2 separate regions of the Homo sapiens genome follow, and region 2 is linked to region 1. The links come from fine-mapping of genetic effects on gene expression. A gene starts in region 1. The other region holds a variant in brackets. All regions are shown on one strand. Distances are from middle to middle.

Evidence for each region.
Region 2: its variant is fine-mapped to the expression of TMEM63B in whole blood (INTERVAL, PIP above 0.99). The same link has a PIP of 0.9 or more in cerebellar hemisphere, cerebellum and monocytes.

What each region holds. Positions count from the first base shown.
Region 1 is chr6:44,124,020-44,132,341 of GRCh38, reverse strand. It overlaps TMEM63B (transmembrane protein 63B), which reads right to left and starts at 4,788. Exons shown (of 24, transcript NM_018426.3): 1 at 4,664-4,788. It overlaps MRPL14 (mitochondrial ribosomal protein L14), which reads left to right and starts at 4,890. Exons shown (of 3, transcript NM_032111.4): 1 at 4,890-4,998. RefSeq lists silencers at 1,022-1,181, 4,108-4,267, 4,448-4,557, 4,598-4,997, 5,018-5,067 and 1 more.
Region 2 is chr6:44,145,868-44,154,189 of GRCh38, reverse strand. TMEM63B (transmembrane protein 63B) reads right to left here. Exons shown (of 24, transcript NM_018426.3): 11 at 7,263-7,343; 12 at 6,690-6,813; 13 at 5,805-5,938; 14 at 5,540-5,677; 15 at 5,245-5,398; 16 at 4,225-4,331; 17 at 3,880-3,966; 18 at 3,561-3,626; 19 at 2,182-2,344; 20 at 1,492-1,597; 21 at 347-514; 22 at 2-117. LOC107986599 (a long non-coding RNA gene) reads left to right here. Exons shown (of 3, transcript XR_002956350.2): 3 at 213-352. Among named protein-coding and RNA genes, the nearest start is that of CAPN11, 8.8 kb to the left of the region's middle. RefSeq lists enhancers at 2,167-2,336, 4,851-5,020. The variant G/A (reference allele first, on the strand shown) is at 4,320.

The DNA of each region.
Region 1 (8,322 bases):
GGCCCCAGCAGGGTGGACAGGATCTAGCTAGATGGTTAGTAACTGAAATCACCATGCTCCTCTGCTGTCCGCCTCCTTGGGGTCACAAAGTACTCTCCCCTCCACAACAGCATTAATCTTCCCACCTGCATGGGAGGAAGGCAGGGCACACTCAGATCACTATCCCCATTTTACAGGGAGGAAGCAGGAACCCAGTAGGGGAAGCAACTTGCACAGTGACAGGACAGGTAAGGGGTGGAGCCTGGGCTGGCAGCTCTGCCAGTTGACAGGGCTGCTCCAAGCTTTTAATTGTGGGGGTGGGGTTGCTGGGTTGAGTTTCATCAAGGGCAGCTGCTCTCAAAGCCAGCACTGGGCTGAGCAACTGAGAAGAGGGAAGACATTGAGGCAGAATACCTTGGGGATGGGAGGTGGCAGTTCTTCCACTCCACGAGGTGCCTGCACCAGCTATATCCCAGTTTCTCTAGTCTGATATTGAGGTTTTGGTTGAGGTGTGTCCAGAGAGTGATGGAGCATTTTACTTCTAGCTAACTTTTTAATTTTACCATTAAGGAGTGTGTGCATGGTGGGGGTTGGAGAGCTATAACTTATAAGCTTTTTTTTGGGGGGGTTGTTGTGTATTTTTTTGAGACGGAGTCTCGCTCTGTCACCAGAGTGGAGTGCAGTGGCGCGATCTTGGCTCACTGCAACCTCTGCCTCCTGGGTTCAAGGGATTCTCCTGCCTCAGCCTCCTGAGTAGCTGGGACTACAGACACATGCCACCACGCCCAGCTAATTTTTGTATTTTCAGTAGAGACAGGGTTTCACCATGTTGGCCAGGATGGTCTCGATCTCTTGACCTCATGATCTGCCCACCTCGGCCTCCCAAAGTGCTGGGATTACAGGAGTGATATAAGCTTTTTCAGTGGAGTTACTGGGCAAGATTTAAGTTAGGGCTTTGGATCAAAGCAAGGCCATGTGGTCTGAGGGGAGGAGGGGAAGATGGAAGCGAGCTCTGTTACTACGAAACCTGAGTCTCAGTCTTCCAATCTGTAACAAAGAGATACAAATATCCTTACTCTACCCCTACCCACTTCAGAGAGAAAGGCAAGAATATATCCACAAGTGAGCATAAAAGTAGTAGTAGGTGCCAGGCACGGTGGCTCACACCTGTAATCCCAGCATTTTGGGAGGCCGAGCTGGGCAGATCACAGGGTCAGGAGTTCGAGACCAGCCTGGCCAACACAGTGAAACCCCGTCTCTACTAAAAAAATACAAAAATTAGCTGGGTGTGGTGGCATGCGTCTGTAGTCCCAGCTACTCGGGAGGCTGAGGCAGGAGAATCACTTGAACCCAGGAGGCAGAGGTTGCAGTGACCTTAGATCATGCCACTGCACTCCAGCCTGGGCGACAGAGTGAGACTCCATCTCAAAAAAAAAAGTAGTAGTAGGCAGGGTGGGGTGGCTCACCCCTGTAATCTCAGCACTTTTGAAGGCCAAGTGGGGAAGATACCTTGAGCCTAGGAGTTGGAGGCTGCAGTCAGCCATGATCATGCCACTGCACTCCAGCCTGGGCAAGAGAGCAAAACCTTGTCTCGAGGGGAAAAAAAAAAAAAAGCCAGGCATGGTGGCTCACACCTGTAATCCCAGCACTTTGGGAGGCTGTGGTGGGAGAATCACGTCAGCCCAGGAGTTCGAGACCAGCTTGGGCAACATAGCAAAACCCCGTCTCTACAAAAGATACCCCCCACCACCAAAATTTAGCTGGGCATGCTGGTGCATGTCTGTAGTCCCAGCTACTCCGGAAGCTGAGGTGCGAAGATCACCTGAGCCCAGGGAGTTCCAGGCTGCAGTGAACCAAGATCATGCCACTGCACTCCATCCTGGGCGACAGACAGAGACCGTGTCTAAAAAAAAAAAGGAAAGAAAAAAGAAAAACAGAAAAAGAAAAAAAAGTAGTAAAATAATAGTATTAAATGTTTATTTAACTCTTCTTTTGTGCCAAGCACTGTTCTAAGCACTTTACAAATGTAACTCATTTGCTCCCCATCACAACCCCAGGAGGACACTGAGATACAGAGAGAGTATATGAGCTGCTCAAGGTCACACAGCCAGTCTGTGGTAGACCCAGATAAGGACCCAGGCTGCCTGGCTCGAGTGTATGCTCTTAACCACTGCACTTTGCAGAGTTATCTGCAAACAAGAGCCACTTCCACCAGGGAGCCGGAGGCAGTCAGTTACCACACTGGAGAAATGCCATACCCTATTTCTACCTGCTTGCCTTTCCTCTTGCTTGTAGCTTCCCTCCACTCAGGCCTTGGGTTTGTGATTTCAGGTTCTGAGGCAGGCATAGGGGACAGGCACCATAGTCTGGTGGTTAAAAGCACAGACTCTAGGATGTGACAGACCAGGCTTCTAACCTGGGAAAATTACTTAGTCACCCTGGGCCTCAGTTTCTTCATTTGTAAAATGGGACAATAATCCAGTTGTGTTGTTGTTCTGGGGATTAAACAAGATGACTTATGTAAAGCTCTTAATATAGTTCAAGGCATATAATGGGCTCTAGGAATTAGTTATTGTTATTAATAAGGTATGGAATAAAAGGGGTTGGTTTAGAGAAAGAAAATTGGTAAAAACAAAAATAAGATAAAAACACAGAATGTAACATGATAGAAATATAACAGAGCCCCTCAGTCAGGTTGGGCTTCTTATTTAGACCTAAGGGTTTACACTGTGTTAGGGACTCTGCCACTGAGTGACAGGGAATATTCTCACTCTTTGAACATACCCCATCCATCTGTGGTAGCCTGGGAGGTGGAGGCATGGGAGAGTTATGGGTCAGAAGTTCAGAGATGATAACCCATTATTGATCAATTACCAGGAAGGATGCCAAGCTCTTTACTTCTGTTACCTTGTTTGATTCCCATGATAAAACTTGTAAGGAGGTGGTAGTAACCACACTTTTTTTCTTTTTCTTTTCTTTCTTTTTTTTTTTTTTTTTGAGACAGTCTTGCTCTGTCACCCAGGCTGGAGTGAAGTGCCACAATCTCGGCTCACTGCAACCTCCGCCTCCCAGGTTTAAGCCATTCTCCTGCCTCAGCCTCCTGAGTAGCTGGGATTACAGGTGTGTGCCACCATGCCCGGCTAATTTTTGTATTTTTAGTAGCGATGGGGTTTCACCATGTTGGCCAGGCTGGTCTCGAACTCCTGACCTCAAGTGATCTGTCCGCCTCAGTCTCCCAAAGTGCTGGAATTATAGGCATAAACACTTTTTAATGAAAACTGAGGTTCAGACAGGTTAAGTAACTTGTCAAGGTCACACAGCTGAAGAATAGTAGAGCTAGAATTTGAACGCAGGTCTCTAAGACTCTGCTATACTTGGAGAGAACTTGAATGATGTCCAAGGGGGTTCTTAGTTACCCACTGCCTGCCTTCTGCCTTGCCATGTCCCCATCCACCCACAGGCCAAGACTGCACTGAGTGAGCCAACAGCAGGCCCCAGCATGTGCCACCTGGGGCATGCCAAGGCCTGGACCCTCTGGTGCCCTGGAGGACAATCACGCTGCCAGCACACCCCCACTTGAAGCCTGGCTGACACTCCCACTCCCCACCTCACCCTGGCCTGGGAGGCAGGATGGGCCCCTCTTCAGCAGGTGTTGGGCACAGCCTCATTGCTCCCCGGCTGCTGCAGACTGGTAATGGGTAGGCAAGCCCCAGCCCCCCAGGGCGGTGGAGTGCTCAGGCTTGCCCCGAGCGGCCAGACCTCTGCCCAGGGGACCCAGGCAGGGGGCAGCACAGCGCCCCAAGGGCAGCCAGCCCCTCTGACCTCTCCTCCCCACTTCCCAAGCGTCCTTTCCTTTTCTGGGGAACAAGGTGCCAAGCTTTGGGACTGTCCGCCTTAGGCGGTCAAGACAGCCAGGAGGGACAAAGCGGCGCCCCCTCCCCACAACAGGGCCTTTGCCCCACTCTCGGTTTCGCGTCTGAATCTTTTCCCCACCGCACCCTCCAACGCAGGCCCGGGCGGCTCATGAATGAACTGCACTGTGTGGGGCGCAAGGAGAGGACACGCTCCCGGGGCCGGCCGCCTCTCCAGCCCGCCGACCAGTCAGTCCCCAGAGCCGGGGGCAGCGGCCGGCCTCGTGCCAGCACCTGCGAACCCTGCCCTTGCCCGAGCCCGAGCCCTTACCCCGGACCGGCTTCGGGTGTACTCGCCCCCGGGAGCAGCAGAAAAAATAAAAGGCACAGAAGGCATCGGACTTGGCGACCCCGGGGTCCAAAACTCGGGGGCGGGGGCGGCTAGTTCCCCAAACGGCGGCGGACAGGCGGGGCGCAGCTGGCACCCCCGAGGGTCGCGCAGGGGACGCGCACCTGCACCGGGCAGGTGGGAGAAGAGTGGCACTCGGGGGCCGGGGGCGGGGGTCCCACCCTTTGGGATCTCCCCGGGGCTGGGGAGAGCCGGCGGCGCGTATCTGGACCTCCGGCAGGGGTTGGAGGACTCACATTTGGCTCGGGATGGTGCGGGGTTGGGGGCAGCGCGCGCCACCCCTGGGTCCCGCGGGCCCGGGCACCTCTGGGTCCCGCAGGAGGTTGAAGGGAGGGGACGCGCAGCTGAGTCCAGGTTTTTTCTTTGGGTGGTGGTGGGATCTTCGAAGAAAAGAGCGAGGGCTGGGTAGGGGTCGCGTACTCACCCCCAGGCGCAGACTCGGCTCCGGCTCGGAGCCCCGGGTTGGGGCGGGGCGGGGCTGGGGGAGGGGGAGGGGGAGTCGCTGGGCGGCTCGAGCTCCGGGCTCCTGCGGCGGCCGCGGCAGTGTATGGGGGAGGGGGAGCGGGGGGAGGGAGGGGGAGGGGGCGGAGCCCCGCAGGTCCCGCCCCGCACGCCGGCGCACGCAAGGTGCGCGCGCACTCTCAGATCGCGTCCGCCGGGCTGGGCCTGGCGCGCAGGCGCTAGGAAGAGGCCGCGTGGGGCGAAGGCGGCGCTTGGCTGGTGGGGCCCGCGGCGGGATTTTCCCGGGCGGCGAGAGCGGTATGGTGGGGGGCAGGGGTGGGCGTTAAGTCCTCATTCCCTCCTTCTCCTCTTCCTTTCTCTGCAGTAGGGGAGGCCCACTCCCCGGGGTGAGTGAGGAGAGGCCAGAGTGGGAGGCAGAGCGTCAGTGGGAGGGGTCCCGACGGGGAGGGGGGGGTCCCGACGGGGAGGGGGGTCCCGACGGGGAGGGGAGGCCCCTTACCCGGATCCTCCTCCCTTCCGCTCTCCGTGGGCTGCTTCTGCGACCCCCAAGTCCGTGGCCGGCGCTCACCTGCTTTCCCCGGGTTGCGGCGTCGACTTGGGGAGGGCGGGCTGCGTTCAGCCGTCGCTGGTCACTCCGGAGCGTCTCCTCCGGCTTCTCCGCTTTCCGCGCTCCCCTCCCCTTTCCCAACTTAGGTCTGGAGATGAGTTAGCCAGACGCCTCTGTGGTGTGAGGATTGAGTTTTTGCTTTCACTCTGTCAACGCTGATGAGTGCGCCCTCCCCCAGGCCAGGGGGTTCCCTGGTTTCTTATTTCACCAGAGACTGCATCTACCAGTGATTAAGACTGGAAAGATGAAGGGAGAGACTGAGACTCTTTCTATATATCACCCACACAAATAGATCATAAAGGCACAACGGGCACCAACCTGGTCATTTAATTTCTGGTTCCTGGAGGGGACAAAAAGGAAGTATTGCTTTCCACAGCCGACGATAAATGAACTTTGCCACCGTAAGAGACGGACGGGACTGAATTTATAAAGAGGTTAAAAGGGCATATGACAGACACCTCAGGCTACTTGGGAAACTCTGGGAGTTTGGGAGATAATTAACTCTCAGGGCTGGTGGTGGTGGGGAACTGCCACTGCTGAACAGAAGGACACTGCCCACCTGGGGGGTTTGGATCTTGTAGTTGGTCAGCGTCTCTGCTGTATGCTGGATTTTCAAGAGTTCATTAGTAGCTTGTGGAATGCAACTGTAAGGTTTGATTTATTGCAGTGTTTTTCAAACTGAATCCTATTGGTGAGTTGGAAATCAGTTTAGTAGATCACGGCCACTTGAAATAGAAAATATCAGAGGGTGTTGCACTTAGGGTATTGTTTCTTGACACTTCAGGTGTACACACACGTGTGAGTGTACTAGGAGGTGTTCTACAGTGTGTTTCTGTAGGTCGCAGTGAGAAAAATTTGAAAAGCGTTGTCTCCTGTGCCCTTCTATTTGCCCTCTTGCCTTTCTTTGCCTGAGTTTTCAGTCACTTAAAATTGTCTGAGGATGCAGTTAGCATGCCAGGAATATACAGTAAAGAACAAGGTGGATCTTCTTCACGGAGGTTACTGTGTGAGACGAAAGACAGTTCACTGTTCATCACTGGAAATACTGTACGTGCTACTGAAAAACAAGGATTTTATTGAGGTAAGAAGTTGGTTGGCTTAATTAGGAAGGGCAGTTTTTCAACTGTGAAAGAAAGGAAGATGGAGATGAAGCCCGTTTTTGGTAAAGTGCTTGGTGGGAAGGGTCTTTGTAGGTTTGGATTCTGGGAGTTGTGAAATTGGTGTAATCTGTTGCTTGTGTGGAACAATAAAATTCACTTTGAGGTCAAATAGTATTATAATGGATATCTGAAAAATGGAAGTGGAAGCCATAGTTGTCTGGTTTTTGGATTTCTGAGGATCACTAGAAGGCCTTTTTTTTTTTTTTTTTTTTTTTTTTTGAGACAGTCTCTCTTGCCCAGGCTGGGGAGATCTGGGTGCAGCAGTGCGATCTCAGCTCACTGCAGCTTCTCCTGGGATCTAGCAATTCTTATGCCTCAGCCTCCCGAGTAGCTGGGACTGCAGGCGCGAGCCACCACTCCTGGCTAATTTTTGTATTTTTAGTAGAGATAGGGTTTCACCATGTTGCCCAGGCTGGTCTCCAGCCCCTGACCTCAATCGATCTACGCAACTCAGCCTCTCAAAGTGCTGGGATTACAGGCGTGAGCCACCTTGTCCAGCCAGAAGGCATTTTTTATATGTTTTTATTTTTTACAAAAAGTATAGTTATGAATCTGAGCATGTGGATTCCTGAACTATTTCTGCCTGTGCCTAATTAGGGTCAGCACCTAATCCTCAAGGAGTGTGTGAGCCATCAAGTGACACTTTCCAGGGCAAGCATTTCAGAAAGCCTGACATGAGAATTAAGTGCCTTGTGGAATCCTTGAAGAACAGTGGCCAAAATATTTTATTATTGCTCCTGAATATTAAAGATAAAATGTTTCCCTTGGGGCGGGGTGGATAACAACAACAAAATTTCCCTGGAGTCCACTTTTCAGGTGGTTGGGCACTGAGCATGGTTATTTAGACTCTTCTTAGCTCCTAGTCTTCAGTGTTGCAAGAATTCTTTAAAACCTATTTTGCTCCATTTATGTCTTTGGGATTATCATGCCTGGGCACACCTAAGGTGGATTTTCCTACTGTCAGGTTACTTGGATAGTTCTTAGGGCTGTAGGGGGGGTCTCGAAAAGCAGGTTATGGTTTAGCCTTCTATTTTATAGGCTCATGGTTTGTCTGGGTTGTAGCTTACCCTGGTGTGATTTTACATGTGTATTTACAGTGACAACTAGTATGCAAGAGAAGACTGCAGTTCAGATCTCAGAAATGTTGTTCTGGGTCAGGTAATATGCTGAATATTTAAAAAGGTCATAGTAAAGTAGCTTACCATTCACCAGTGAAACCACTCAGAGTAGGAGAGCCCTCTGTTAAAAACTCAAAAAATCTTTTATGTCTTAGAAAAGAGAGGAAGTAATTTACCATGTCCACTCTAAACTGAAAACACTTTCAGGGCTATGATCTTAAAGAGGCACCTATGGTGCTGCCCTGAGAATCAGGGAACGAGCTTGCTCTTCCTGGCCAGGATCTGGTAAACAAACTATCCTGCAGATCTAGTCTGTACTGGATAATTCAGAGAAGGATTGTCCACATTAAAATGATCCCTTACATGAGTGAAGCTAAAGCACTTCCATTTCCAGACCTCTTTGCTTTTCCCAATATGATCTCTGCTTGACAGAGAGTCGTTGAGACCCAGACAGGTGATTCCAGGGCCACAGACTTGGTGTGAGAGAAGGGGAGGATGGAGTGAAAGAGATATATGCTTTCCATCAGCAGCACCCTCCCACCCCCATTCTTTAACTTTTTCACACTACTCTCCTGCCTATCTGACATCTTAATAAACCTGGAGCCCACCTAAACCTGGCCCAATGGAGGTACTAATAGGAAGGGAATTATGTATATGATTCAGTAGAATTTTACTTTGACTTGTGCAGTTTTTCCTGAGTTTGACCAGATGAAGAATATTACAAATTTATATCTGG
Region 2 (8,322 bases), 22 kb before region 1:
CCTTGTAGTTGTGGGCACTGAGGTATTTGAAGTGTCCAAAGCAGACGTGGCAGAGACAGATGACGATGGTGATGACCAGGACCACAAATGTGAACATAGACGTGGGAGCTAGGAACCCTGGTGTTGGGGGGCAAAGAATGGGGTTGCTATCTCCTGTGGGCCTCCCCACCCCAGCTTCTGATACCCTCTGAATGCAGTCCTCACTCTCCCAGGTGCTACAGACTGGCCCCAGCCTCTCCCAGGCCCCTTGCCTGCCACCCCCAGCCATGCGGCTTCTCCTGTGGCCTGCTCTGGCTGGAATCCACTCTGCTCGCCACCCCCCGTTCCCTGGGTAGGGATCCCTCACCCGTGCGCATGGTGGAAAAGAAGAGCAGCCAGAAGAGGCAGAGGATGGGCGCGGCCACCACCTGGTTCACAGCCCCCGAGTGGATCTTCTTGTCCAGCTTGGCCGGCAGGTAGGCGTAGTAGAGATTGTACCTGTCTACCAGGTGCTTCAGCAGCATGTACATGAGCCCTAAGGGAAGCCACATGGGCCCTGACCTCGGAACCAGTGCTGCCGAACCTTTTGTGTGTCTGTCACAGGTTGTTCTGGTCCTGAGAGTGCTGAAGGGTTGGCCCCCTCCTCCTGCCCGGGCCCCAGGACGGGATAGTGCCCCGTGCCCCAGCGTGATCACAGAACTTCAGCTTCCTCCGCTACAACCCCTCATTCTACTCTCCTCATCAGGAATTCTACTATTGGAAATCTAGTCATTTGAATCAACAAGCATCTTCTTAAAACCCGTATCATTTTTCTCTAACCCTGTCCCTAAACAGATACGTATAAATTAAGGGACAAGTTCTATTTCCCCAGAGGCTGAGGGATAGGGAGTTTCTAATGAGGACAAGGAAGTTAGTTTGGGAACTTGGAGCCTTCAATAACCAGGGAGGGTTGGTTAAGGAGTTAGGATGTTATTAGGGAGGAAAGTAGAGGCTACCAGTGGGGGTGATGGTTAAAGAGAAACTTTGCTAAACTTCAAAAAGGAAGAGAGACCTGGCCAAGTCACATAGCTCAGATACAGCAGACTATCTCCATGAGTGGCAAGGACCCATCCCACCCTGGAATCCAAGTCTTTCCTGAGTTTACAGGGTGGTGTAAAAGTGTGCACATGGATGCCTGTGTGGGAGTGTGTGTGTGAACATGTCAGCACGTATGTGATCTGTGTCCAAGCACATCCCGCTGAGGGAAGGCACAGGTGTGGGTAAGTATGGCCATGTTGGTGTGACTTTGCCCTGGGGCCCACATGCCAGCTGGGTCTGGCCTGAGCTGATGGCTCTCCCCCTCCTCCCCACAGGCCAGGCCCCAGACTGAGCCAGGGACCGGGCGGGAGCCCCGAGGGGCCGGTCTCCCAGCCGGGCCCTGTCCACTCGGGGTGGCCTGCATTCCTAGAGTGGAGAGGGTGAAGTCCTGGGTCCCCCCGAGCAGGGCCCAGGTCCCGGCGCGGCGGTGCCTACCGAAGGGCACGATGATGGGGCAGGTGATACTGTAGGTCATGACCACCGTGAAGACGCACATCATCCAGGCGTAGGCTGCGCCAAACTGGAACTCGTAGGCCTGATGCTGGGGGGGAGACGGGCAGGAGGATGGCTCAGGGAGGCAGGGACTGACCAGAGGGGCAGGGAAGGAGGGAGGGGGAAGGGAGCCAGGACCTCTGGGGCCGGAAAAGAAGCCATGGGGAACAGGACCTAATGTCTAGGGTAGGGTAGGGCAGAGCAGATGGAGAGAGGGGCTATGGCCGAGAGGAGGGTCAGGGCGGTTGCAGTGATGGGGCACGGAGAGGGGCCTTCAAGGGTCGGGGCCTGGCAGGTAGGGGGCAAGAGTTGGGTGGACTTGAGAGTGGGATGCCCAGAGCCCTCTTATTAAGACAGAGGGACCCTAGCGCTAGGGACCCAGATCTCCCCAACTCCCATCATAGAATGCTACTGTCAGAACTGGCAGGGGCCTTCAGGGTTACCTATGTCCACCCATGGCAGAATACGAAGGCCCCAGATATGGGAAGGGGATGGCCCGGATCCACCGTGAGTCAACTGTACTCCCCAAGTCTCAGCCCTCCTGTGCCCCTCAACCCTAGCGCGATGGCTGCTGTTTCTTGTTGGGCCACCAGGGGGCGCTGTGCGGGCCGCTGCTGCCCCAGGCGGCCGTACCCGCTTCACGTTGCGCCTCTCGGCGGCCGAGCGCGCCAGGCAGAGCCGGATCATGTACATGAGCAGGCCTGGGATGCGCAGCAGGTCCATGGCGTTGCCGATAAAGGCTGAGGCAATGACGTAGTTCACGAAGAAGGCGCCGTTGTCGGGCAGGAACACACACCTGCGGGCACCAGGTGCTCCAGCACTGCACCCTTGGGGTGACCCGGTGGCCGCCCGCCCACTGCCAGAACTACAGCACCCAACACCTCCACCACCAACATGCTTCTTCCATGTGGACACCCCCAGCTTAGCGCCCCAAGCACCTGTGCCCTGTTCCCCCCAGAGACATACAGAGTGGCAACAGACAGCTCCAAGAACTTGTGCCCCATAAAGACCCATGGAGAGAGTGCTCAAGACCACCTAAGGCTGCTAGAATGTTCAGGGGAGAACTGTCCAGGACCCCCAAAGACAACCCAATGAGACCCTCAAAGAACCCAAAGGCTGACAGCCCCAGGAACACCCAGAAGATTCCCCCACTTAGACCATAACTCGAGTTACCCCCAGAGTGTGACATGAGCCTCAGATACCTCCACAAACAAGCTTTGAGACCCTTCCCGCAACATCTCTGGGGGAGCCCAGGAACCTTTATCAGTGCCTGAGATGCCCCAAGTGTGACTCAAAGATCACCACAGATGGCCTACAGCAAAACCCCTAGAGTTTGTGCCCACAGCCATGGTGCATGACCTTCAATATATCCTCACATGATTCCCAGAGAAGATGCCCATACAGAACTCCACAGTTACATCTCTGAATAAAAGCCTGAAATTTTAGAGATGTTCCCAGAACTTGTACTGCTAAACATCCCAAAGTGTGAGTCCTTTAGCCTCCCCGCCCACAGACACCCCCAGAGTTATAAGGTCAAGAGCCTCCTACACATACCCAAAAATATGGGCTCTAGAGACCTTCAGGGATACCCCTAGTAGCCTCCAAGACACTCCCTAAGTATCACCAAGACCTCCCTAGAGATGGTTCCCCAAACCTCCCAAGTGGAACTCCAGAGACGCCCACAGTTAGTCCCAGAATATGGGCACAAGACACCCCCATAGAAACTACCAGAATGTGGAGCCCCAAGCCCCAAATATACCTTGAGGATGATCTTAGCATCCAAACAGGTTACCAGAGAGTGAACACCAACACAGACCCCAGGGACTTCTACCATGTATACACACCCAAGACACCTTGTGGGTGCCTTTGGGGTAACCCCGCCAGATCCTCTCTCTTCTGCCCCCTCCAGGAGTTGGAAGCTTTGTTGCACCCTCCCATGGGGCTGGCAATGTCTCTCAAGCATACCCACCCCTGCTGTCTGGTCTCTTTCCCTAGGGGCCCCAGTCACTCACTCAAACCGAATAGCTGCCTCAGCCAAGAATTTCTTATCAAAGAGCCAGCGGAAGAAGAGGTCCAGGCTGGAGGGAAGCAGAGGAGAGATGGGGTGGGAGCTGGAGTGGTACAGAACACCAGGGGAGGGGAAGTCCCTCCTCTGTGAGCCACTGGGGAGACTCCCAGACATGGGGTGGGTAGCTCAGGAGGCCTGGGGGTGGCCAGGCTTCCCATCTTGGGCCCCTTGCTTTGTAGGGGAGGTAGGGAGGCTGAACTGCTCTCCTCTCCCTATCCTGCTGTCCCCCTACCCTGGCTCCTGCCCCATCCTTCTCAACTCACCTGCTCAGTCCCAGCGAGGGTAGGAGCAGCACCATGAAGATGAGGAAAGTGTAGCACTTGTGCATGGTTGTCCTGTTCTCCCCAGAGCTGGAGGGAGGGGAGCAGGGAACGGTACAGGTCAAGTGAGCCCAGGCCCCAGACTTGCTCCCCCAACAAGGACAATGTCCAAGGAGTGTCCCCTGGGAAGGGTGGGCCTCCCAAGGTGAGGGTGCTGGGCACTACCCCTTCCCTACCAGCTGTGGGACTGCCCAGGGCCAGGAGCCTGAAGGGCAAAGTGCTGCCCAGAGAGGATGGGTCATTGAGGGCAGGCCACAGCGAGGTGTGGTGTGAGTGGAGGCACCTTACCGTGTCCAGTGGGCTTCAAAGAAGGCTGAGTAGTAGACGATGGTGGGAAGGAGGGCCGAGAAGCACCACAGCAGCAGGGTGGGGAAGAACTGGGT[G/A]ATGATGGGGTTCTGCAGCAGGGCACAGGGGGGCGTCAGGCAGGGCAGTCTAGGGGGCCCAGGTGGCTTTGCTTATGTGCCTCCTCCCCAGCTGGGCCCTTGGCCTCACAACTCTCAGGGCTCCCATGTTGGAAGCCCAGAACATCCGGAGGGCTGGGGTGAGGGTGGGGGCCAGGGCCATATGTATAACCCCAGGGTGGATAATACTGATAGTCAGCATTTGCTGAACATCTACTATGTTCTAAGCAGTGCTGATGTACTTGCCATGTCTTAATCCTCACAATAATGCTGTTACCCCATTTGACAGATGAGTAAACTGAGGCAAAAAAAAGATTCAATAGCTTCCCTAGCTAGCAAGCCATGAGGTAGGGATTTGAATCCATGCAGTCTGGGTCTTATCTATTATGGTATTATCACTCCAAGTGATTTGCAAACTGTCCTTCTTCAAACTCTGAGGTTCTAAAGAGGTATGCTCTATGCGTGGGAGGAGAGGTGAGGGGAGGCCAGGCAGACATGCATGCCACCCTACTGTCATCGGAGCAGCCCTGCTTTTCCACACTGGGTTTCACACCGATAAAGAGATCAGAATCCAAGTCCAAAGCCACTGATCTAGTTGAACCTTTCCATTTTTTCAGTTAGACTGAGGGGTGAGGGAAGGGGACTTCTCTGAGATCAGGACTAAATGCAGGCTCTCTCTCTTCCCTGGGTGTTTCTCCAGGTGTTGCACACCTGAGGGTGGCCTCTCTCAGGGGGAAGGTGGCAGGGAGCCCAAGGGAAGTGCACACAGGGGTTTTTGGGAGCTGGTTGGTGGCACGGGGTTGGAACAAGCAGAACGGGCTGGGCTGGGCAAGTGGAAGAGGGATCAGGGCCTGGTATCTGTGTGTTGTGACCCAGCGTGGAAAGTGACAGGGGCATGAGGCCTCACGTTGAGGTACTCCACAGGCTTGGTGACGTTGAACTTGTCCATGGTGGTGATGATGATGGCTGGAGTGGTGAGGAAGAAGAGGAGGATGAAGAGGACGACATTGATGACCAGGCAGCGCAGCCACCAGATGAAGCCTCGGATGGAGAGGTGCTCCCTGGCAAGGTGGGGAACCGGTCAGTCCAGGAACCAAGGGCAGGATTGGCCCCCAGTGACACCAAGACACTCCCTCTCCTCCGCCTACCTACTGAGCCCATCCCAGGCCCTGGAAAGCCTGCCCTGACACCTGTTTGCTCACCAGTAGATGTTCTGAGGGTCAGGGGCATAGGACACGGTCCAGTTGGAGATGTGCAGGGACTCGCTGCAGGATGAGGGGCGTGGCTCCCCACGGCAGGTGCAGCCCTGGCATTTACACACGTTGAAGTCCTTCAGGATGCTAGAAAGATGGGCACTGGTTACCACAGGCCCACCTGGAGGCCACACTGCTGGCAGAAGGCCATGAGCACAGGGGTCAGGGAGCCCTGGAGGGCTGCTCAGGGCCGAGGGCCGAGTTGGGGACTCACATGGCGGTGATAGTCTCATTGTGGAAGGTGACAAAGGCCATGCCAAGAGGCTTCTCATTCACCTTCTCCTTCTCCCGCTTGTAGTCTTCCTTCAGCTTCTGCTCCAGCTTTGTGTAGTACTCAATGGCCTCCACCTTTGTGGGAGGGTTAGGGACAGGGCCTCTAGTTGGAAAGCCAGGCTGGGGCCTGCAGCATCCAGCCCACGCTGACTTGGGGCTTCCTACAAGCCAGGCACTGCTCCTCTAAGCATTTTTTTTTTTTTGGAAACAGCGTCTCGCTCTGATGCCCAGGCTGGAGTGTAGTGGTGGAATCTCAGCTCACTGGAGCCTCAAGCTCCCAGGCTAAAGTGACCCTCCCACCTCAGCCTCCCAAGTGGCTGGGAATACATGTGTGCAGTACCATGCCTGGCTAATTTTTGTATTTTTTGTAGAGATCAGGTTTTGCCATGTTTCCCAGGCTGGTCTCAAACTCCTGGCTCAAGTGATCCACCTGCTTCAGCCTCACAAAGTGCTGGGATTACAGGCATATGCCACCGCACCCAGCACCTCTAAGCTTCTTTATATGTATTACTCACTTTACCCTCACAACACTCTCATAAGGTGGGTACGTTAACCCCATGAGGAAACTGAGGCACTGAGCAGTAAGCAACTTGCTCAAGTCCCCAGAGTCAGTGGGTACAGCACAACATTGTCCTTTTGGCTGACATTTTCTAATTTGAGGTTTGAAAACCTGGTCACTGTAGGGACATTAGACAAACCCAACAGTGGGAACTGAGGCTTCAAGGATTCCAGGGACAGGTGGGGACTCACTGAGGGCAGGGCCCCAGCCTTGCCTGCCCAGGACCTGTCCAACTTCTCCCGACTCAACAGCCAGCCCGCGTCATACCTGCTCACAGCCTCGCACCACACAGCAGCAGAGGTGGCCACAGGGCTTGGGGTTGATCATGGTAGGCACGTTCTCCTTGCTCTGGAGGTTTGTGAAGTACAGCTTTCCCCGCTCGGCCTTCTTCCTGTGGGACCCAGATGCCTGGTCACCTACATCTGGGGCTGGGGCTGGCTCAGCTTGGGGGTCATCTAGCTCACTCCCCAAGGACAGGAGCTGTCTTGTTCTTGTTTAGGATACATGTTTCAGATGTGGCCACATCCCAAGGTCTCCCCACCCATCCCTAGAGGGCCAGAAGTTCTTCCTGCAGGCTGACCTAAATTTCTCATACTGTAGCCAAAGAAGGGCATGTCCTCAGATGCAGTGGGGACCATGGGCCCCCCTTCCCCTCACAACAAACTCTAACCTCCAGGCCTTGCTCTTTCCAGAGCTGAATTAACAGGCACACCAACGAGTTGAATTAAAATCAAATGCCCTAGGAAAAAATCTAGAAGGGGAGCCTGTGTGGTAGCCAAGATGTCCTCCACAATGGCAGGGGGCCCTTGGTGTCACCCTCCTCTGCCCCCAGTCCCTTACCTCTCTGCATCGAGGAACATTAGGCGAGCCACGTTGTAACACGGGCGGGCTTCGAGAACTGTGCAGTTGGGGTAGGCTTCCCTGAAACACAGTTCATGTATCATCTTGTGCAGGGACCCCACCCACCTGCCCCTGACTTTCATCCATGACCCCATCACCTTCAAGAAACACATCTCTGGCTGGACGTGGTGGCTCACATCTGTAATCCCAGCACTTTGGGGGGCCGAAGCGGGAGGATCACCTGAGGTCAGGAGTTCGAAACCAGCCTGGCCAACATGGTGAAACCCTGTCTCTACTAAAAATACAAAAATTAGCTGGGCATGGTGGCACGTGCCTGTAGTCCCAGCTACTCAGGAGGCTGAGGCAGAAGAATTGCTCGAACCCGGGAGGTGGAGGTTGCAGTGAGCCAAGATCGCGCCACTGCACTCCAGACTGGGCGACAGAGCGAGACTCCATCTCAAAAAAAAAGACAAAAAAACCCACATCTCCAATTCAAGCTGCCTTTTTCTTAGTCTACAAAACTGAGAGTTCCCCAAGAATAAAGCTTTGGAGTTCCTCCTCATGCTTATCTGAGTGGGGAAGTGGGAGCAGAAGGCCTGAGCACTGTGTGACTGCAGGCTGGGCTAACAAACCAGGATGTGTAGGGACATACTGCATGCAGGTAGGGAAGCCAGGGCTATGGTCTGATTCCTGTCCAGGGCTGTGACCTTTAGGTTGAAAAAAATTGCATCTAGTCATAGGCTATATAATTCCTTAACCCTGTTCCCAGAAGACCTGGTCACAGCCCAACACTTAGCCTTGACCACAGACTGACCTCAACCAACCCATAACCCAGTCTACAAAATGATCTCTAACTTTGGCCCAAGACAGACAAGAGATTGATCCTGACCCCTGACCAGGGTGAGACTGACCTGTAACCCTGGCCAAAGACTGACCCTTAAGCCCACCCTGGCCAAAGACTGACCCCAGACCTGTTGCCCAGACCCAAGACTGACCTCCTAACCCTGACCCCAGATTCATCCTTACCTTGACTTAAGACTGACCAGAGAGAAACTGGCAC